Homo sapiens: one gene and its partner. The protein of the gene in region 1 interacts with the protein of each later gene in a biochemical or structural test. Each region holds a gene or a part of one and is shown on either strand. Other genes may lie near its edges.

What was found.
Region 2: the proteins of HSD11B1 (region 1) and CD36 form a complex in vitro, tested with the Homo sapiens proteins (one study listed by BioGRID).

The regions. Positions count from the first base shown.
Region 1 is NC_000001.11:209,698,158-209,710,649, forward strand, and holds the start of HSD11B1 (11-beta-hydroxysteroid dehydrogenase 1), read left to right. Parts: upstream 1-6,688; 5' UTR 6,689-6,785; coding exon 6,786-6,873; intron 6,874-7,653; coding exon 7,654-7,784; intron 7,785-8,551; coding exon 8,552-8,663; intron 8,664-8,785; coding exon 8,786-8,971; intron 8,972-12,492. UniProt on the Homo sapiens protein: Controls the reversible conversion of biologically active glucocorticoids such as cortisone to cortisol, and 11-dehydrocorticosterone to corticosterone in the presence of NADP(H).
Region 2 is NC_000007.14:80,639,642-80,651,474, forward strand, and holds part of CD36 (platelet glycoprotein 4), read left to right. Parts: intron 1-6,446; 5' UTR 6,447-6,540; intron 6,541-6,607; exon of another isoform or gene 6,608-6,718; intron 6,719-6,804; exon of another isoform or gene 6,805-7,010; 5' UTR 7,011-7,099; coding exon 7,100-7,219; intron 7,220-11,833.

The DNA of each region.
Region 1 (12,492 bases):
ATAGATAGATTAGATAGATAGATAGATAGATAGATAGATAGATAGATAGATAGATAGATAGGAAGGACAGACAGACAGGCATCCTTAAAATAACTATTTGTCATTTATCTGAAATTCAGATTTAACTGTATTTGTCATTTATCTGAAATTCAGATTTAACTGGGCATTCTGTATTTCTATTTGCTAAATCTGGCAACCCTATGTCCCACCAGGGGCAAGTGACTTCCTTCTAATGCTGACATCCCTGGAACCTTGAGATGCCCACCTGGCTGGGGCTGTGGTGTCACCCTAGCGTGCTTCCTGAAAGTTGGGCTGGCCAACCAAGAAAAAACACAAGATGGGCCAAAGCCCTGTGGTGGTCATGCTGAGGTCAGTCCTCTCAGCTGTGTGGGGCTCTCCCACTGCTCCCCATGCTGCCAATGTTTCAACAGACCTTCCATTGAATAACTTTGTTTAGTTCTTACATGGCCCCCTCTCTCTTCTATGCTCAGATGTGAATCCACAGGAGCTAGGCAAGAGAGAAAACCTGAAAAACTACAACTACAACATGCTTAGAACTGTCTACTTAGATCATGCCCTTAAAACATAAAAACAACAGAATTTTTTTGATTATAAAAAGAACTCTTTGCATCTCCATCTCCACTGGGGGCAGGGATCAGACCATGCTCGTGACCTCGTGAGGGTCTCTTCTTTCCTAGAAGGCCCTTGGCTCTCCCAGGCAAATAGATTCCAGGTATTCTACCCTCTCAGTCCCCTACCACAAGCTACACGTGCCAGGCAGTAACAGGAAAGCACACAGAGGGCAATTTATCCCATGCCTACTTCATTCTCCCAGATCCACGATTCCGTTAGCTAAAAAATAGAATAAATCTGTCCATTGAGATTGACATGAAGGATTGACAAATGAGAACTTCTCCCCTCGTTAGACACACACATGAGGGAGGAGAACAGGAGGAAGGGAAGGAGGAGGGAGTCTGTTACTGGACAAAATTGCATGAAATGATAGTTCTTTCTATAGACAGGAAAAGATCTTGGCAGCTGTGAGTTCTGAGGAACTGGGGTGAGAATGGGGGTGGGGGTGGCAAGAAAGGGAGAATCTTATGCGTTATTGTATTAGTTCATTTTCACACTGCTGATAAAGACATACCTGAAACTGGGAACAAAAGAGGTTTAGCTGGATTACAGTTCCACTTGGCTGGGGAGGCCTCAGAATCATGGTGGTAGCCACAAGGCACTTCTTACATGGCAGCAGTAAGAGTAAAATGAGAAAGAAGCAAAAGCAGAAACCCCTGATAAACCCATCAGATCAAGAGAGTAGCAGGGGAAAGACTGGCCCCCATGATTCAATTACCTCCCCCAGGTACCTCCCCCAACACGTGGGAATTCTGGGAGACACAATTCAAGCTGAGATTTGGGTAAGGACACAGTCAAACCATATCATTCCACCCCTGGCCCCTCCAAATCTCATGTCCTCACATTTCAAAACCAATCATGCCTTCCCAACAGTCCCCCAAAGTTTTAACTCATTTCAGCATTAACCCAAAAGTCCACAGTCTAAAAGTCTCATCGGAGACAAGGCAAGTCCCTTCCGCCTATCAGCCTGTAAAATCAAAAGCAAGCTAGTTACTTCTTAGATACAATAGGGGTACAGGTATTGGGTAAATACAGCCATTCCAAATGGGAGAAATTGGCCAAAACAAAGGGGTTACAGGGCCCATGCAAGTCTAAAATCCAAAGGGGCAGTCAAACTTTAAAGCTCCAAAATGATCTCCTTTGAATCCAGGTTACACTGATGCAAAAGGTGGGTTCCCATGGTCTTGGGCAGATCTGCCCCTGTGGCTTTGCAGGGTACAGCCTCCATCCTGGCTGCTTTCATGGGCTGGTATTGAGTGTCTGCGGCTTTCCAAGCAGATGGCACAAACTGCCAGTGGATCTACCATTCTGGGGTCTGGAGGACATTGGCCTTCCTCTCACAGCTCCACTAGGCAGTGCCCCAGTAGGGACTCTGTGTTGGGTCTCCAACCCGACATTTCCCTTCCACACTGCCCTAGCAGAGGTTCTCCATGAGGGCCCTGCCCTGCAGAAAACTTTTGCTTGGGCATCCAGGCATTTCCATACATCTTCTGAAATCTAGGCAGAGGTTCCCAAACTTCAATTCTTGATTTCTGTGCACCATGTGGAAGGCTCAACACCACGCGGAAGCTTCCAAGGCTTGGGGCTTCCACCCTCTGAAGCTAAAGCCTGAGCTCTAGGCTAGCTCCTTTCAGGCTCCTTTCAGCTGGGACACAGGGCACCAAGTCCCTAGCCTGCGCATAGCACAGGGACCCTGGGCCCACCCATGAAACCACTTTTTCCTCCTAGGCTCCAGGCCTGTGATGGGAGGGGCTGCCATGAAGGTCTCTGACATGGCCTGGAGACATTTTCCTCATGGTTTTGGGGATTAACATTTGGCTCCTTGCTACGTATGCAAATTTCAGCAGCTGGCTTGAATTTCTCCTCAAAAAATGTGTTTTTCTTTTTTACATCATCAGGCTGCAAATTTTCTGAACTTTTATGCTAGTTTTCCCTTTTAACATGGAATGCTTTTAACAGAACCCAAGTCACCTCTTGAATGCTTTGCTGCTTAGAAATTTCTTCTGCCAGATACCCTAAAAAACCTCTCTCAAGTTCAAAGTTCCACAAATCTCTAGGGCAGGGGCAAATGCCAACAGTCTCTTTGCTAACACATAACAACAGTTACCTCTGCTCCAGTTCCCAACAAGTTCCTCATCTCTATCTGAGATTACCTCAGTCTGGACCTTATTGTTCATATCACTATCAGCATTTTTGTCAAAGCTATTCAACAAGCCTCTAGGAGGTTCTAAACTTTCCCACATTTTCCTGTCTTCTTCTGAGCCCTCCAAACTGTTCCAACCTCTGCCTGTTACCCAGTTCCAAAGTCACTTCCACATTTTCAGGTATCTTTTCAGCAACAGCCCACTCTACTCGTACCAATTTACCGTATTAGTTCATTTTAACACTGCTGATAAAGACATACCCGAAACCAGGATCAAAGAGAGGTTTAATTGGACTTACAGTTCCACATGGCTGGGGAGGCCTCAGAATCATGGCGGGAGGTGAAAGGCACTTCTTACATGGCAGTAGCAAGAGAAAAATGAGGAAGAAGCAAAAGTGGAAACCCCTGATAAACCCATCAGATCTCGTGAGACTTATTCACTATCAAGAGAATAGCACAGGAAAGACCAGCCTCCATGATTCAATTACCTCCCCCTGGGTCCCTCTCACAACATGTGGAAATTGTGGGAGATATAATTCAAGTTGAGATTTGGGTGGGGACACAGCCAGACCCTATCAATTCTCATGTAATGCAAAGATCCTCTCCTGTTTCAACGTTGCAGTGTTATTCTCCCAGGAAAGGCAGAACCTCTGAACACAGTGTTTACCTACTTTTTACTCTGAGGTTTGCCCAACAAGATTTCATTTTCAAATGGGAGCACTTGCTTAACAAATCTACTAAATAGTCATGAAAAGCACTACAGCTGCCACCTTCTAAATGACAGGTGTTTCTTTCATGATCAACGTTTTATGCCAAATGCAAGGAACTTCCCCTCTGGCTGCCCCTCCTCACATTTTTGCCATCTCCTATCAGTCTCCCCAGATCTGGCCCATCCTTCACAGTCCCATTCTTGTTCATTCAGCCCCTATGTTCTTCTCACTCTGTTGCTTGTGCTTGATTCCATTTATTCTGGTGAGAATGATCAAATCAGAGAGAATTCCTGGCTGGGCTCTAATACTCACCTCCAGCAGTGAAAAGCCCATTCTGTGCAGGTAGGCTCCAGGTATCTGCTGAAAGCCTGCTCTGGAATGGGAATGGTCAGTGTATTACAAAGGAGGGTGCAAGGAGTGGAGTGAACTGTTCACTGTTTTTCTATGGAACTTTAATTCAATCAGGGAATACTTGACTTGAAACAAATGCTAGCTGAAACAGTTGTATTTCATTTTGTCTTTATTATTTTTTAAAACTTTGTTGACAACCCCAGAAAGAAGATTTGGGGGATGGGATTGATCTGTTCTGACCAGAATGCTGAATCCCAGTGATTTCCCCAGATTAAACCAGGCTCCAGGAAGACAGCAATTTTCTCATTGCTGCAGTATCTCAAAAACACTAAAACAGCAAGTTTATTGAATGCCTATTTTGGAGCAAGGCTAGTGGGAAATGGAAAGAGACAAAGATGAAAAAGACATAATCTATGTCCTCCAGGAGTTTACAAGCTAATGAGAGAACCAGCCATGTAAATATGGACACAAAGTGGATTAGATGTTTATTATATAATATGGTCAAAGTGTGGTCCCCATGGGTCTCTGAGACCCTCTTGAAGGGTTGAAAGGTCAAAACTATTTTCATAATTATACTAAGACATTACCTGACTTTTCCAGAGGCTACAGGATGTATGCTAATGCCACTGCCCTGAATGCTAATGGAATGTATGCTTATGTATTCTTGAGCTTTAGAAAAAAATCCTCAGTCTTAATTTCTAATGCATAAATTGCAATAGCAATATCAATAGGTAAAACCTACACAGGCAAAAGTTCTTTGAGGTCCTTGGAAATTATTAAGAGTATACAAGGGTCCTGAGACCAAAAATTTGAGAACTGGTAAGATTTAATGCATCAACTACCATTACACAGTGTCCTTGTTTCTCATCAATGCATTTTATATAGCAATTATTTTATCTAATCCCATGAAACTCACTTTATTGGATGCTTTTGCCATATCCTTATTTTCTAGCATCGTAGCTATTAGGTCATCTAATTATTAATCTGTTTGTGTCTTTGGGTTTAAATGTGTCTTTTGAGGCCACACAATGTTGGACTTCATTTTTTAATGGAGCCAACAATCAGCAATTGTTAATGCATTTGCTTTGTGTTCTATTACTCTGCAGTTTATCTTACTCATTGTTATTTTTGCTTTCTTTAAATTTATGTTTTCTTAATGGACTTTAAAATTCTTTATTTATTTTTTATGTCAGACAATAAACATCCCTAGTCTGCCCATCTTTCTATCATTTCAACATCATCATATTTCCAAATAACTTTTCATTGTTTCCTATAATTTTACTATTAATAGTATAGGATTAAGAAAATAAACCTTATCTGGGTTCTGGCTGGCACTGCCTTCCCTCTAGGGATGAAAATGGAGTGTAGTCTGTAATATATCCTGGTATCATAAATATATTTATAAAATTATACAAATGTAGCTTGCAGTTCTAAAGGCATGTAATCTAATTTTTACTTGAATTTTATCTTTTTTCTCTTTTTGTCCTTCATAGACCTCGAGCTCTGTCTAGCCCTCAACTGTTCTCAAATCTCCATTGTTTTCTACAAGTGACCCTCACAGCTGTGGGCCTTTGTTGACAAATTGTTTCATCTCCTCTGGGTCTTAAATTATTTTCTCTTACTCTAAAGTGAAAATTTGATGAATGTTTCCAGATACTGCACTTGGAATCATAACTTAATTTCCCTTAACCTTGTGTAAATTCTGTCCCCCCACTACTCCCAACTCCTATCCCTCCTCCAAAGCACTGATACTTATTATCACATTTAAATTTTTTCCCCGCTCTACTGATAACTTACAGAATGCAGGACTGCATTGTGATGGGGTAATTTCCATGAGTTGATTGGTTGGTTTTGAGTTGAAAAACTTAACAATGATACATCTTAAATTCTTTCTTTGAGGATTATTCCTTAATGAATTCGTGCTACGGACATACTGAGGTGGTTATTTTTATATTTCCCTGATAATAAATTCTAAATTGCTAAGGGTTTCTTACCACCCTCGTCCTTTTACTGTTACTAGATCTATTTTTAGCTGGTGTGGGCGTCCCCAGCTAGTTTCACTTGCCTAATGCTAGTTCTTTTTTCTTCTACATCAGGTCGCCTCTTCCTAGCATCTTCTCCATGTTTCTTGTTGCTCTACAGCATTTACAAGACCCAGTTTAATAGTTTAGTGCCTTTTTTGTCACTCATTATTTCTTCTTTGTTCTCTGTTAAAATAATAAGTGTATGATCCATTGCACTTGCCTTAGAGTCTTGAACCAGTCTTGGATTTCCCGCCATCTGGGTTCTGGCTGGCTTGCAATTTCTCCTTTGATGTTGTAATACTTTTTCATTGAACTTGAGTGTGGGGCTTATAGAGCTTCTTTGCTTTCATTATTTTTTCCCAAAATGTGCACATTTTTTTTCTTAAGCTTATTTTGCTGTTTTGTGCTGTTATTTTTAATTGCTTCCCACTGGGTGGGGGGGTAGGGGGACTGAGAGTGAGATTTGGCTTGAGTTTGGCTCTCTTTGCTATTACTCACATTTCCCCCCAGAAGCCCTACATGCACTCCTCTCTCTCTGTCTTTGACAAATTACTTTTGAAAGATCATTGATCCCTGGCGTAAATGGTGTTAAGAGTAAGATGGACTCGGGTAGGGATGCTCAGGAATCCAGTCCTGTACAGTCATGAGCTTGGCCATCTGGAAGTCTCCTCTTGCTCAATGAAATGGAGTAAACATTGTCCATTATGAAATCCACCACACAGGCTGCCAGGGACGAATGGGATCCCACCCAAAGCCAATCGCTGCTCTGACAGGGAAATTGGCTAGCACTGCCTGAGACTACTCCAGCCTCCCCCGTCCCTGATGTCACAATTCAGAGGCTGCTGCCTGCTTAGGAGGTTGTAGAAAGCTCTGTAGGTTCTCTCTGTGTGTCCTACAGGAGTCTTCAGGCCAGCTCCCTGTCGGATGGCTTTTATGAAAAAATATCTCCTCCCCATTCTGGGGCTCTTCATGGCCTACTACTACTATTCTGCAAACGAGGAATTCAGACCAGGTAAGTACCCATGCGTCTCATTTTGGAGGAATAGGTTTAAAAAACACAGGGGTGCTTGAGTGTTCCTGAGGACCAAGATGTGTTCTTGATCCTCAAAGTTGGTGAAAATGAGGGAACCCTGAGTTAAGATGGTATTTTTGTGTCCTCCAGCTACAGGCTGTGGACAGGGGGGACTGTGTAGGAAGGGTAATCGTGTAGCCAAAATCTAGCCAAATAGGCCATGCTTTATTTGGCACCCTTAATGGAAAGCAGTTTCAAATCTTCTACAAAAATGAGAGTAATACCCAAATTCACAACTCAGCAGCTAATTGGGCTCTATGAAGAGACTGATAAGTGGGAGGCAAAAAAAAAAAAAAAAAAAACTGGAGATGATGACTACATAGAAGTGAGGGAAAATCCCTGGAATTTCTATGAACACATGTGTTTTGATTCCTTGTTAAATGTACTTTCAATTGAGCAAAATTGAAAGAGTCCAGAAATGTCTGGAACTCCAGCATTTTAGCTGAACCATGACTTTTCTGGCTTCATCCTATGATCTCTTTCCATGGAGGTTTTTAGAAATGACAGTAGGGAGGCTGTCAGCCCAAACCTCCCACTTCAGAGCATGTTTATGAAAGACCTGGCCTGTTCCCACAGTGATTTACGGAGTTTGTGACAAACTGATCTGGGCTCATAACCTTTAAGTTACAAATTGCGATAAGCATGCCTATATCCAGAGAGGGAGAAGGAATTTTGCTGCCAACTTGGGTATGGTCCTCACTTCCTTTTGGGGTTCCCCAGAGATGCTCCAAGGAAAGAAAGTGATTGTCACAGGGGCCAGCAAAGGGATCGGAAGAGAGATGGCTTATCATCTGGCGAAGATGGGAGCCCATGTGGTGGTGACAGCGAGGTCAAAAGAAACTCTACAGAAGGTGAGGGTTCTATGCTCGCAGATATGTGTACCGTCACATGCTCAGATGTGTTCTTATATATGCTCACATATACACAGAAGCTAGCATATCGCAGATCTATATACAGAGGCACATGCACACACACAGACACTTAATTTTGCACTCTCATATATAGATTCAAACACCAAAAAACCCACAGGAATATAAAAGTATGCATTTAAGCATTCATTCATGTGTGTGTGTGTAATATATTCTGCAACAGAGTCCTTGAGTTATATATGCTCACAGACATGCCTAGTCACACACATTTACACATGGAACTACAGATACATACGGATGTTTTCAAAAACTGAAATCCCAGTACCTGCTTATGAATACATATCCTCATACCCATGCAGACTCCCAGACACATGCCCTCTCATGGACTCACAAACCCAAGGATGTACAAACATTCACAAACCTAGAGCTACCCACATAGTAACCAGCATCTACACTCATAATGCCCTCAGAAATGCCTATTCACAGAAGCCATGAGCATAAATCATGAACTTAAACCCCAGCACTGGGATGATTTATCCATTTGAACCCCACCAAGTTCCAGAAAATATTTCAGACAGAGGACGATGATCATGAGGGTTATATTAGGCAACACACACACAAACATACTTACCATTTCTTACCTAAACAGGGCTGTGAGCAATCTCTCATTTAAGCCCCCCGTTACTTCAGAGACTACCCCCCAAAAATCTGCAGCTAAGACTGATGCCATTTCTGCTGTATCACTGCAGGTGGTATCCCACTGCCTGGAGCTTGGAGCAGCCTCAGCACACTACATTGCTGGCACCATGGAAGACATGACCTTCGCAGAGCAATTTGTTGCCCAAGCAGGAAAGCTCATGGGTGAGGCTGTTTCTCTTACCTCCTCCTCTGAACTTTGCCCTTGGGGTCACCAAGAGCTTTTGGGAGGAGAATGGGAAAGGTATCAACCCCAGATGATTTCTTAATATAGCCATCTCTTGCAGGAGGACTAGACATGCTCATTCTCAACCACATCACCAACACTTCTTTGAATCTTTTTCATGATGATATTCACCATGTGCGCAAAAGCATGGAAGTCAACTTCCTCAGTTACGTGGTCCTGACTGTAGCTGCCTTGCCCATGCTGAAGCAGAGCAATGGAAGCATTGTTGTCGTCTCCTCTCTGGCTGGTAAGTGGGACAGGGACATATGTGGAAGGTAGAAGAAAAAAAAAAATGCCAGGGATGATGCCAGGCTCTGAAGTAGACATAAATTTTTATCAGTTTCCATGCAGAGAAGTAATGAGGGATTGGTCAAGGTAAGTGGGCTACAAAATTCTTTTAAGTAACAGAGAAAAAGCAGTAGCTCTGAGTGCTCATTGGAAGACTGAATTGTTTTCTACAAAGTAAGGTCAAAGGGACTTGAGGGGCTGCTGGAGGTACAGCCTGTCCTGGTCCTAAGGGAGAGACCTAGTTACAATATTAACTTGAAGTTGAAATGTTCATAGTAATATTAAACAAAAGCTGATTAACAGCTTACTCATATGCATGAATGGGCAGATGTACTGATAAGAGACTTGTAGGGGGGTGATTTGTGGACTCAATGAGAGGCACGCATCCTGAGTAAAGGAGACACTGTTACAAACTAGTGACACCATAAAAAATGAAGGATTGGTCAAGGTAGATGGGCTACAAAATTCTTTTAAGTAGCAGAGAAAAAGCAGTAGTTCAGAGTGCCTATTGGAAGCCTGAATTGTTTTCTACAAAGGAAGGTTGAAGGGACTTGAGAGGCTGCTGGAGGTACAGCTTGTCCTGGTCCTAAGTGAGAGACCTAGTCACAATGGATAAAAAGGACTTTGCTTCCTCCATGACCAAAAGGTTGGTGAAGTTATGTAAATGTGAAGGTACAACTGAGAAGTTAACTGTTTTAACAACACACAGGTGTCTGATAAGTGGGCTAAGCTAAAGCTAAATAAAATGAACAACAAGAAAAAAAAAAAAGATGAACAGACCTGCCTATAGTGGGTGTATTCTCTAAAATTTGAACATGTTAACATGAAAAGATCAATTTAAACAACCAGCTGGGTAGGGAGGAAATGTGTCCAGAGAAATGGTCATGAAAAGATATCTGTGGGATCAAGAGAGGTCCCTGGTGTTCTGGATGGTGGTAGCATCAGAAGCCATCACCAGTAAAAAACCAGTGAGTTCCCAGCTTGGGACATTTCTAGGCCCATTTTTATCATAGATCCAGGAGACAAGTTCCACACATCTTTGTTGATTAGTCAGTTAGAAGGATGTGGCTGGAAAGTGCAAACACCAGGATCAAAATCCGCCATCTAAATGTTGTTCCTGGCAAAATAAAAACAAATAACCTAGAGGACTCTGTAAACTGTTAAGCACTTCACAAACATTCTTATTGAAACTAATAGCACCATCTGTATCGTAAAGAGTTCTCCTTTCTGGCCCAGGGACGGCCTGCATAGTGATTGGATAAAGGGGCAGTGTGTCTGTGCTACCCGCCAAACAGTGTGATTGATATGCATCCCGGTGCTTCCCAGACAACACACACTCCCCACCCCTCCCCAGACACAGACTCTCTCTGGGCTGGAAGAAAGGGAGAGCTTCCAGATGCATACTGAGTGGGAGGGTGCTGGGCACATCCCCAATCCATCCCAGGGCATTGGACAAAATCCTCACATCAGTCATGATGTAGGTGGCTTTAATGATTTCAGCTGATTAAATAATACATTCACTCTAGGCAAAGGATGTATTTCACCTTTGACGAATGTAACTTTCTAGAATGTACCCATGATCTAAATGTGCTCAGAAGGACTAAGAATTACTGTTGAGCCCAAGGACGTGATGAAATTCTGATAATCTCTGTTTCCCCATATCTCCTACACTTATTGAATGACACTTGGTAATTTCCATGAACTCTGGGAGGTAGGAAATCTAGCTGGATGAGTATCTTTGGTGTTTATTGCTTGTGTAGCCAAAAGATTCCAGCTTTTTTGCCTTGAAACCTGTCTATGAACTTGCAAAGTACAGACACATTGCTGTCTTGCCGCAACTGAAGAATATTCTCTGCTTTATGATGTATTCTTTTAATCAGTCAGTAAACATGTTCATTAATCCTTCCTCTTTAAAATCTAAACTCTATAAATATGGGATGCTAAACATCAAGTTGATCTTAAGGTCAGCCAAACAGTACTGGGATGGAGTTTTAATCATTTCTTCTAGGGAATACCTTAAGTTGTTTATTGAGTTTCAGTGATAAAGAATTGTTTTTTCTCCACAATGCATTTCTGGGTATTGCATTACATGGGAATACTATACTTCTAATATGTTCCTTAAAGGCTTGGTTACCTCTGTAGCATTAACAGAGACAATACTGCTGCTTCTGGGAACCTCCTTGTAGTCCACATCTATCCACTATTCACCACCTTTTCTTGGCACCTATTGAGCAAGTTTCTTGTATGTGTAACATCCCGTTACATTGATTAGCCTCCTCTCCTTCCACCACTTGCTAGTTAGGATGTAAGTTCAGCTACTGTAACGAAGACCCGAATTTACAATGGCTTAAGCAAATCTAAATTTATTTATCTCACACAAAACACCCTGGAAAGGCAGTCCAGGGCTGATATGGTAGTTCTGTCCTATGAGGCTGTCCAGGAGGCCTTCTATCTCAGAACCACCATTCCTAGAGTGCTTGTTTACACCTGCATGTCCAAGATGGCTCATTGGCATGTCTGAATTCTAACTCAAGAAAATGAAAAAAGAAGGATACCACCTGGAAGGTGTACACTTTTCTTCTGCCACAGCTGGCTGCAATTGTTATCTTTATTCAAAGGGAACATGTGTCCAACTAAAAATCAGAAGTTCTATTTGTGTAAAAGACACTGATATTGATAAACAACTAGCAATCTCTCCCACATCACCCATGCTAAAAAACACATAAGACTAGAAAAAAGTATACCCTCCAGGCCATCCCACATGTGAAACACACACACACACACACACACACACACACACACACAAAAGACTCATTCCCTCTCACATTCAAGGTCCATCACAAAAAACAAAGTCCTTCCATCCGGCAGTGCGTGCAGGGGACAGTGGGGTAGGAGAAAGAATGGAAAGAGAATACCTAAATAGCATTTGTGAAACAAACCAAAGTAGAAATATTAATACTTGAATATGACTAAAAAAAATCACTGGAGTGGGCAGAGAACATTTGAAAACATCTGGAAAAAAGTTTATCTGACATTAGTCAAAATAGGTCATCTTAGGTTCAATATTAGAAAAGTAAAGTTGGTTTCATTTTCGGGCTCCTGGGCTTGGTGAATCCCATCACTGTGGTGTGTGTCATCAGTTGCACACATGGCAGCTAGAACTGAGCATCTAAGGCCATTTCTCCACCTGCTTTATGCCCCTGAGAGGAATCACGGACAAACCCTGTCTTCCTCTGCTCCTTTCTCCTCTCAAAATCTACTTAGCCCCCTACCTCCTATGAAGTCTTTTTCAGAACTCACCAGAGCCATTTCAATGTTTCTTCTTTGTCTTTATCTACTATATTTTGGTAAGTTAACTTTAGAAATCCAACTTCCTCATCATTTCTCTTTTTTGGGTTTATTGGTAATCCAAATACTACTAATACTACTCATAACTACTAATAACACAAATGTTAAACATACTCGGCAAGCATACGTGTA
Region 2 (11,833 bases), on another chromosome or scaffold:
GATTTGCATGTACTTTTTAGTCTTTTTCTGTGTGGTTTGAAGTCAGTAATGTGTGTTGAAGCTAAAAAATATTGCTTTAAATATTGGTTCACAAGGAAGCCAAAATGAAATATTTAAAAATGTTTGTTATATAGAAAGTCCAGTGGTCCTTTGGAATTTACAAGAAAATAAGAACTAAAGTAGAAATCATTTAATTTCCCAGACTCATTAGTGAACCAGAACAATAAACCAAACAGAGAACCATCAGATAATGGGTTAGCCTGGGAAGAATATTAATTACAACTGGAGGTACTTGCACAGAGTGTACTGAATTTGGAATTTACCTTGGAAGTTATAGTTGCCACCCTATTTTTTTAAGGAATTTTTTTAACCTTGTTTACTTTAACACATTTGAACCCTGCATGTGTGTGTATTTCCTGTGTGTTTCCTGAAAAGGAAAGTTTAAGATAATTCTGTAACTATCAGATACTTAATTCTGTAAGTATCCTTGCATCTAATCAGAAGATGTTTTTGTTCACTGGCCCAAGATGTGTCTGAAACTTGCAAGTAGCATTGTTCTAAACTAGTAGCTGTCTTTCCATTTGCATATTTTAATTCCATACATATATGATCACATTTCATTATAATCTAACTATTTTGCAAATACTCATTTCTACTTTTGTAAAATATACACATTTATTAGATTTTTAAAACACTTGGCCAATATGAAATAACACTTTACTGTTATGGTTTGAAATGATACTTCATAGTAATATTTCAAAATAACAATAACATTTTCTACAATATAAATATATATTATTTTACTTCATTTAATACTTGCAACCTTATTTGATGTAAGTAAACTCATTTTAGAGAAAACTGTATCACAGACAAACTTCAATACTAACACCCAGAACTGAATCTACATTTCTTGGCTTCAAGGTCCAGCATTTTTGGCATTACAAACTTTATAGTGTCTGTTTATAGTAGAATTTGGGGTGTGGAAAAAAGACATTAGCATTCTTGTCTAAGGTTCAAAAATTAAGAATGGGTCTAGATAATACTCTTTAAGTCAGTATGAACTTAAGGGAATAATTTCAAACCTACAGTAATCCCTGGTTCATAAGTCTTTAAAAGACGGGACTTGTTTCTAGAAGGATCCCAAGTATAATATATAAAGTCCAATGTATTTATTGCATTAGTTTTTAAAGACTACCATCAAAACAAGTTACAAATTGCAATATTTGAGAAGTATGTAATTATTTTATATTACAGATGTCTATCAAGTTTTTTCCTATTTTACATTTTTACCATCATATATTCTGATAGGATAGAAATGGACATGAGATAATTTCAGTAAGATAAGATTCTGGAGATCTCATAGTCCAGTTATTTGAAAATTACTTGTGGAGCCCATGGGTTCTTTGGAGATGACTCAGAGCCCAAGTGAAGCGTGACTGGGAAAGGGAAGAGGCACAGTTTCTGCTCCTTTCTTTTACCAAATAACTCTTCTTTGAACTATCTTTTATATTGGTATTGTGCATAAAATTTACCTTGAAAGGAGAATTCTATCTCTAAACATGATTTTATAAAGAATGACCTAATGACCTTATGTTGATGAAACATAATCATAGTTAAATGATTGTTTTACACCCATTTCTACTACCTTGAATTTGAATCTACATTTTTACTCATGTATAGGGAACTGTGTCTTTATAAACATACATAGTTATGATAATGTGAAAAAAGTAATTTTAAAAACTAACTTCTATACTCATGCAAACCGTTGAATGAATTCCCCCAAGTCCTCCAAAAACTAGATTTTATGGACAGATGCTGTATTTTTTAGGTAAGGAAAACTCTCTGTATCAAGAGAATGGAAAACAAGAGTGTGGTCTGGTTTTCTATCCTAAGAAAAAGTGGGAGGAAGGCTTATAGATAGAAAAAAAAGAAATTTTAGCAATCTACTGATCAGTAAGAAAATGTCATTTAGGTCTGGCAAGTGTCTATGGTACAAGTACCCTGGAAATCTAAAACTTTTCAAATTTCATAGTTTACATCCCAGCAGATGTTACTTCAGGGCCATGCCTTTTCTGGGTGGAGTTTCCAAGGGAACACAGCTTTATAAACACAAGGGATTAATTATAGATGCTCTGGGGACTTGCTCTAATGTTCTAAACTGTTTACTGAAGAGGCTTCTTATATCTCAGTCTAATGCAGGCTTTGCAAAAAGCTTAGTCTCTGTTTCTACTGGGTTCCCAATATAGTGGGAGGGTATTTTGCTTAAAAGTTCATTACAGAAACACTGTTGACCTGATAACCAAAAAAAAAAAAAAGTTATATTTTTCCTCCCTCTTTCAAAGATGACCCAACGGAATAGGGTCCACTCATGAATTCTACAAAAGGAATAGGATTTATAATCTATAAACTGGACAGAAGGCAACTGAGCTGCCTATAGAATCAAGAAAGGCATGTAATTAGTTGCCTATTAAAACACGTCTTCTTATTTTCCCTTTCTTCTTTATACAAGTCTCAATTAGTTTTCTGTATCTTGGCTTTCTAAATTTAAGTATTTTAAGCAGGAAGTAAATTATTACCGATACAGTATCAATATCTTGTCTGTTTCTTATAAAGGACAAGTAACAATTAGTAAAGAATAAAATTTAATCTACAATTAGCAAATGAAATTAATTACCTATTTTCATATATAAGGAGTTGTGTTATTAAGAAAACTGAGTAAGCATAACCCAAATTTTTTTATGCTTTAGACAGCTAAATTTGGTGGAATGGTGGAGACAAACTACATTCTTTCTCTGAAGATAAATATAGGTGGAAAAGCTGTGTGACTACATGTGCTATTTAACATGAACTTTTCTCTTTTGTATTTGGTGCACGTCTTACGTAGTATGGGTGGTTCTCCTTTGCCTCAGGTGAATAAAACTAATTATAATTTTGTCATATGCAGCTTAAGGATAGAGTATGATTATAATAACAATACTTCATTACTCATGGTGTCAAGGCACCGAGTGATAATAAATGAACCCAACTAGTGTCACGTATTTTGCCTATTCTTAGGAAAAAGGTAGAAACTTAAAGTAATAAGAGGCAATCAATCAGTTGAAAATTTGAACAAATAGACAAGTTCAGTTTGTCTAGCTCTTTTTTCAAAATATCAGCACATGGATTGAAGTTTTGTTAGATTAATACTTGTAATTTTGCTTGTATATCATCCTGACCAATGTTAGATTGAGAACTGTCTAACCATAGAATTCAACAGAATAAATTACTTGATACTTCTGTTTTCTAATGTATGTGACTCTACAGCAGTGGGATGTGTACACTATCTCACTTCAGTTTTAAGTTCAAAGCAGACAGAGCTAGGCAGTACCCAGGCCTGTCCATTGCTCAACATATCTAGGCTCAGAGTCCATAGAAGTTATACTAATCAGTTTTCAGGTCTAGAGAGGGAGCCATTGGAGCGCATGCACTACTCCCTGGTTTCTTCAGTGGTTACTGTTGGAACTCTTTACCCCTTGCAGAAACTCTTCTCTGTAGTGCATGGAGCTACTTGATTGAATAAAGAAGAATGATTTGGGAAAAGGCCAGATAGATTCACAACTAGGTTGTGGCATAGAATCTGGAGAAGGGCTAATATATGCACATATACCTATTCTAACAGCAATAGAGTTATAATTTTAAATCATTTTGTATCACATTTGTCAGAGTTGCAAATGACATTAATATTGAATGAGTAATTTTTAGTGAAGTTTATGTGGAACATAAAATAACTTTTCCAGAGAGATAACTTAATCCTTGAGTTATACATGTTTTAAATAGATTTTCATACTATATTAACAAAACTGGAATGTGACACTGGGGGTTTCCTGCTGCATTTTTTATGTGGGCTCATAAAGCTGTGGGTTTCTACAGAGGTTCTCCTAGAGCTTCCTAACAGTGAGGATAAAGAGTGTCAGGCAGGAACAGGAAGACAAAGTTAAGAAACAGAGTCTCTGGGTTTCTTAACTGCTGTGGAATCAGTCATTTTACCTAATGCACTTCCACGTAAGAATTGAAAAACCAGTTCAGCCGCTTAAATTAAAAAATGCTGATCTCATTTTATCATCTCATTTTACGCATGAGGAAATTGAGGTGTAGAGAGATTATGTGGCTTGTCTGCTTTCATTTAGCAAGACAGTGACAAATCAGTCTTTGGTTTAATCTTGTCCCTTCATCTCAATTGAACCAGCTGGGATCGCTATATTTTAATTGCTTCGTTAAGTATAACTTGCAGAAAATATTTGGGGATGGTCTATGAAATGGGCATTCAATAAAATATTATGTACCTAATAAACTACCCTAAATCTCATTATCAGTTCACAACATACAGAACACCAGCATGACATTCTCTAGTTGGCGATTACTGTGGTTGCTTAAAAGATGGTTTCAAGAAAAGTTTCAAGTGCTTTACAATTATGCATTGCAAAGGAAATTCTATTTGACAATATCCAGTCCTGATTACCAGCATTAAATTACTCATTCCATTGCATTAGGACAGCCATGGACAAAGCCATATGAGGTAGCATGGTATACGATTTCCAAGGGCAGGGAAAGCTATTGTTACCACTCCACCCTGAACAATTAATAAAAAGCCAGCCCTACTTGCTCAGTGAGACAGAAAATTCCACAGGAAAAACAAATCACTTGTTTAGACTTATGTGCATTCCCTTTACATTGGAGAAAAATGACACTAAAGAACTAGTCAGTCTTCTTAATCACCAAGACCTTGATGTAAATGAAGTTTATTGCATCCTATGGTTTATACTGGAAAGTATCCTATGTATAAGGGAATAGGCAAAGGGGAATCCCAAAGGTTAAGGGAACATATGTAAATAATAAAATTGCCAAGAAAAATATTTGTAACATTTATTCCTACATTTTGGGGGAAAATATCATTTTCTTATTCTTTTCTTAGCTCTACAGGTAATATTTTTGAAAAACTATATGATTACTAAAGTGGAAGTAAATACTAATAAAATCATAAGAGTGGTACCTCTGTTGCAAGACAGCTGTGGAGGGAAAACCTGAAATTATAACAAACCACAATTATTAATACACTTACAACATTAACAACAATATTCTATGTGCCCTTTTTTGACTGTAGCCTTCATTCCGTTGGCACATATGTTTTCTTTGGCCATGAGCATTTCAAAGTAGAGAATAATTGTTTATAAACTATAAAGCGCATTCTGACTATAAATGACACGCCAACCCCATTATTGACAAAATGTCATTGCAACAACAAAGAAGTTCAAATAAATGTGTTTTCAAATACTAGTTAGAATTAACTCTGATTATTACAGTAGGATCCACTCATTTCACAAACTGTATTCTTTCTTCCAATCTTTTTTTTTTTTTTTGAGATGGAGTTTCACTCTTGTTGCCCAGGCTGGAGTGCAATGGCATGATCTCGGCTCACCGCAACCTCCGCCTCCTGGGTTCAAGCGATTCTCCTGCCTCAGCCTCCGGAGTAGCTGGGATTACAAGCATGTGCCACCAAGCCCGGCTAACTTTGTATGTTTAGTAGAGATGGGGTTTCTCTGTGTTGGTCGGGCTGGTCTCAAACTCCCAACCTCAGGTGATCCACCCGCCTCAGCCTTCCAAAGTGCTAGGATGACAGGTGTGAGCCACCACGCCCGGCTCTCCCAATCTTTATATAATAATCACATACTATGGCTGGGCATGGTGGCTCACGCCTGTCATCCCAGCACTTTGGGAGGCTGAGGTGGGTGGATCACGAGGTCAGGAGTTCGAGACCAGCCTGACCAACATGGTGAAACCCCATCTCTACTGAAAATACAAAAATTAACCAGGCATGGTGGCGTGCACCTGTAATCCCAGCTACACAGGAGGCTGAGTCAGGAGAATTGCTTGAACCCAGGAGGCAGAGGTTGCAGTGAGCCGAGATCGTGCCACTGCACTCCAGCCTGGGTGACAGAGAAAGACTCCGTCTCAAAAAATAATAATAATCACATACTTTATGAAGACACCAAACATTAGATTGACAAATATATACTAACACAAACTACCTAATTTTAACAGAATTAGCATGAATCAACTGCAAATGACAAACTATATTGTAGTTGAATGTGTAGGGAAAAAATTCTTCAGTAAGAGAGCAATGCCATGGTTGAAACAAGACATCCTCTACATTTTATATTTGCTTCAAATTCTTTATACCTGTAGTCTATCCAAAGTCATCAATAAAACTGAAAGTAAGATACTCTTATTTTAAAAATTCCATGTTTTAAACAGTTTTTAGGACAAGCCATTCAGGCCTGAACTCAGTATTCATGAAAATTAGACTTTCTTTTAACAGTTATTTTAAGTATGGTGATATTAGAGAGTGTCCCAGTATAAAATTTCTGAGAATTTTTTTCTATTTACCCATGCTTTTCTTATTTTCACAGATAGCTTTCCAATGATTAGACGAATTGATTCTTTCTGTGACTCATCAGTTCATTTCCTGTAAAATTCATGTCTTGCTGTTGATTTGTGAATAAGGTATCGTAAATAAAACATCTGTTACCATACTTGCTTATCATTTAATGGAAAACACATCAGTCAACCCACATTCTGTTCGCAGGAGAGCTCCAGAAGGGGTGTGGAAGGTTGTGTTGGGTGGAGAAACCAGATAGTGAGGATGCAACTAAGTTGCTGAGACAAGGGAAGAGAGATGAGGGTGAGAGTTCTCCTTAGATAAGATTTCAATATGTTAATCATGTGTAGAAAGAAAATTAAAAAGGAGGAATATGAAGAAATTCAGATATGACATTATTAGTTCTGCCACTGGTAGGCATTAGAAGCAAGAAAAGGGAGACGGACCGAGGAAGCCACTTTGGTGAAACAAAAAGAAAAGCATTTGTTTATTTAGAACGGGCAAAATGATACGTTTCAGTGGGTGTTTTCTTTGTACTTTGATCTTTTTGTACTGATATTTAAGCTTCTGTTTTATGATCTCTTTCTAATGATAGAACCAGAGCTTGTAGAAACCACTTTAATCATATCCAGGAGTTTGCAAGAAACAGGTGCTTAACACTAATTCACCTCCTGAACAAGAAAAATGGGCTGTGACCGGAACTGTGGGCTCATCGCTGGGGCTGTCATTGGTGCTGTCCTGGCTGTGTTTGGAGGTATTCTAATGCCAGTTGGAGACCTGCTTATCCAGAAGACAATTAAAAAGGTACAAGTAGTCCAAAGAATATGCCTTCTCATTTTGATTGATTCTAACTTCTCTTTTTTTGCTTTGTATTTACCTGCTTTATATTTCATGGTAACTGCTAATTTTGTATCTTTGACATAAAGGTAATTATGAACCACTGCAACTCTATATGATGCGACTTTATGTGAAATGTTATAAGTATAATGTATATTTAACATGACTCCATTGCTGTCTTAAATATAAATACCAAATTCTATTAAAAGCTGTCTACAGGTATGCATGTTAGTAGAAATAATTGTTTTAAGTTATGTCCAAAGAGCATGTTGGCATGCTTTTGAGTAGGAAATAAGTGAGTATATTTTGTAAAAGCACATTTATAAAAGAAGTTGCACTTTAGTTAATACTGAGAAAAGTAAAACTGTGTGTGTGTGTGTGTGTGTGTGTAATGTGTTTAATATTGAAACATAAATCCTTATTAAATTGTAGGTAAACTTGTTTGGTAATACACTGTTTAGTAATCCACTATTTTTATATATGTGTAATAATCTCATCTCATAAATATTTTCTATTTGTGAAGCTTCATATTGGAATCTTAGAAAATACTTTCAGAAATATGCAGAACATGTCTTAGTATAAAACAAATTGACTGTAGTGTGAAAAAACAGAATGATTGAATAGATGGGCTTTGCACAACAACCTAGAATTCATCTCCCACCCTAGCTTATTCGAATTAGCTACACACTCACTCATCAGAAACGTTGATTGATAGGGGGAAGAAGAGAATAAAGGGAAGCAGTTCTGCTGAAGTTCTAAATCAGGGATGGCAAATTCAAATGGCTGCAGGAGTTTGGATACAGGGGTTAAACAAAATTTAAGGTGCCAAGAACAAGATAAAATGAAGAACAGGAACTGCTGTGAACTAGACTGTGTGTTTACTGCCTGAAGGCATAAATGTTCATTTTATTAAACATAATACTGGCCAAATAAAACGAGTTCTGCCTTCAACTCTCTACCTGGTTAGGATGGCAATGACCTAGACAAAGGGTTAGTAAGCATAGTGCACGATGGAGAACAGGAGGAATTGAATTTTTATTAAATTTTTATTGCTATATTGTTAGTATTTTTAATATTTTTGATCCACAGTTGGTTGAATCTGCAGATGTGGAACCCATGAATACAGAGGGCTGACTGTATTGTGTTTATTGCTAACATATTGCAGAACTTCAGCCTCATGCATTTAACTGAAAAAACATATGTAAATTAGTATCCCCTGCCTTGGAATTCTTAGTTTTCTTGATAGTATTTTTAATACAGGCCAATGGAAACAGACAGGTAATAGTGAGGTGTGGGGCTTATCTAATAGTGGGATGGAGTGGCCATTGATCTGACATCCTTCCTACTCATAAACTATGTTCTCACCCAGATCTTATGCAGAGAAAGTACAAGATCAGTGTCTGTGTTAACGTACAGACTACAACATCATTTGGAAAAGTTTTCCAAATTCAAAAATCACAATAATCTTCCAATGCACAGCGATTTAGACTACTTTTTTTTGCTGACACATAATTATTGGTCAATAACTGAGTATTGATGATTTAATTTTTTTCTTTGTCATGCAACAAAACTGGTACATGTAGATTCTTTTGAATAGCATGTGAGGTGCTAGCATTTATTTTAATTCTTTAATATTTATCTTTATGCTTATAATAGTTAACCATGAGAAAGTAAGTTTTCTGACATCAAAATGTGCTTTTGTATAATGACTAAGAGAATAATATAATCTCATCTATTGTAAGCTATAACCAGGGGAAGATATATTATAATAAAAAATACCGAGACCTATGAGACTCTAGAATTGAATTGGAAAAGTAAATGCTGTAATACTTTGAAAGAGAAATCTCTCAGAGTATTCAAGAAACTTCAGGAAAAAGGTAGGACTTGATTCAGATTTTAAAGAAGTGTAGAATTTTGAAAGTCTCAAATAACTGCAGTAACCATATTAAAGGACTGATTGATAGTATGAAAAACCCTGTGAAAATGCTACCAAATGCAGTGAAGATGGAAGGAAGAAGGTAGAGAATGTGCCCATAATACTGGATTAACAGCAGAAAAGATTAGAAGTTAACATGGGGTTAGAGTTAGGAAGCAAGCTTAGAACATCAGGCAGAAAAATACTTAATTGATGATACAATACACAATAGTCGTCGGTATGTTTTTCAGCAAGTGTAAGATATGATAAAACCTGAATTTAGAGATTAGATGGCTAACATTTAATTCTTACTAAGAGTTTCCTATATACTAGTTCACTTAATCTTCAAAAATATCTGTGAGAAGTTGCTGTTATTTTACTCATCTTACAGGCGCAAGTCCTTAAATCAACTTGCCAACTCACCTAGCCAATAGGGAAAGAAGTCATTCTCCAAATGTAAGCAATCTGTAGGAAGAGCCTAGATGAAAAACCTGGCCTTGTATACTACTCTACAGCAGAAAGGTTGCAAAGTGAGGATACCAGAGATAGGAAAACAAACAAACAAAAAACTGTAGGATATGACCACTTTCAAGGAGAATATAAGATTCCCTTTTAGAAAGATATTTGCATAATCTGCACATTATATAACAAAAGGCACACTGGTCTGGCATGGTTGAGTATATAGAAAAAAAAAACTGATAGATAATAGGATGAAATGGAAGCTTGGAGAGACAGATTAAATTAGAGGAGTAAAAGCATCAAACTCAAGATGTCCAGTGAGTTATTGATAGAAGGTATGTATATACCTTACAAAGTAAAACAGAGGTTTTATAAGTGATGTTTTATGAACATCAGTCTGTGTTTCAAAGGTCAGAGTTCAAATAGATTTGATCATTGCTATAAAGATTAAAAATAAAACTAAACAGTAGATTTACTTTTAGAGAGTTTTAATGGAGAGAGGAAAAAGCAGAAGAATTATTACAGAATTTGTAATAATTCAGAGGCAGGAAGACAAAAGTAGAAAAGGAAAAGAATGATCTTATATGAAGAAACAAACAAAGAGTACAATCCTAGAAGTTAATAGGAGGCCAGAACTCAAGGAAAGAAAGCATAAAATGTTCTCAGGCAGATGAAAATTAAGAAAATAATGATTAGAACATGGTCACCAATAATTTTGAAAGTATACTTTGAGTAGGGTAATAAAGAAGGGGGAATTAAATCAATGGAGTGCTTTTCCTTCTTGTTTTTGAAATAAGAATTATCCGTGCAATCTTTTACAAGGAAAAGAGAAGATTCAGACTTCCTAGTGTAGATTCAAACTCAAGGAGGTGGTACAACAGAGACTCATAAAAACTGTCAAATGACAGTGCACATTGTAAGCCCCCTACATGTCCATAGACTAAGACTCATCATCAGAATCCTTATATTGGTCAAGATGTATGGTACATTTAAGGCTAAGCTTCTTTTTGCTCTCAGATTCCTACACAACCATGTTGACCTTGTTAATTTAGTCATATGAAGTAGGTGGAATATTGTTTGAATAGACTGTTTCTTTTTTCTTCAGTTTACAGACTATTTTTTAAATGATATTGGCGTATGTATATCTTTGGCATAGAGTAGGAGTCAAATATTTGAATTTTGTGTAAACCTAGAGAGCCAAGTGTCTTACTGCTGCCTCAGAAATACTTAGAGTAATGCTATTTCACAAACATATGGGTTTTGGTACTGTTGACTTCTTATTTGTGTACCATTAAAACTCATTTAATATTACTTTGTTTAGCTGACTAATAGCAAATTAAGAAAGCTATTGTATACAAGTGATATTTGGAAAAAAATAATTAAACTTCTTAATTGAGAATGATGAGAAAATCATTTCATATTTAGTGTAGAGTTGCAGTGCTGTGATACCTTCCAATTCTGAAAGATGTCATTACCATTTGAAGTAGTCTAAAACAGTTTAGCAAGCTTATTTGTACTTTATTTTTGCTCTTTATTTTCAAGGGATGTCTCTGGTATCCTCATGCTTTTTATGGATTATAGCTGCAATCTTTCTTACCAGTATTTTTGACCGTGATTCTTAATAGAGTTGTGTGCAGCCAGCAAGTTTATGCAGTCTTTCAAAAAAAAAAAAAAAACTAAAAATCAATAGCAAGAGCTGCCATGAAAGTAGAAACTACCAAAGCACTGTGGAAAAGGGTCAAAATTCTACCACCATTTACAAAAGATAATTTATCACTTGACATTATTAATGTCAGTTGATAAAAAGTTTAGTGAATATTGTATAACATAACATAGGTAGTTGTATGCTAAGCAGATTAATGCAGGAACAGAAAACCAGATACCACATGTTCTCACTTGTAAGTAGGAGCTAAATATTGAATACACGTGGATATAAAGAAGGGAACAATAGACACCTGGGGCTAATCGAGGGTGGGAAGGGGGAGGAGAGCGGAGGATCAAAAAACTACCTATCAGGTACTATGCTTATTACCTGCGTGAAGAAATAATCCGTACACCAAACCTCCATGACACACAATTTACCTATATAACAAACTTGCACATGTACCTCTGACCCTAAAATAAAAGTTGGAAGAAAAAAATAAAATTTAAATAAGTTCTATAGTTCTAACTATAGAACACCAAAAAAGGAATTATAGGTTTCTTTG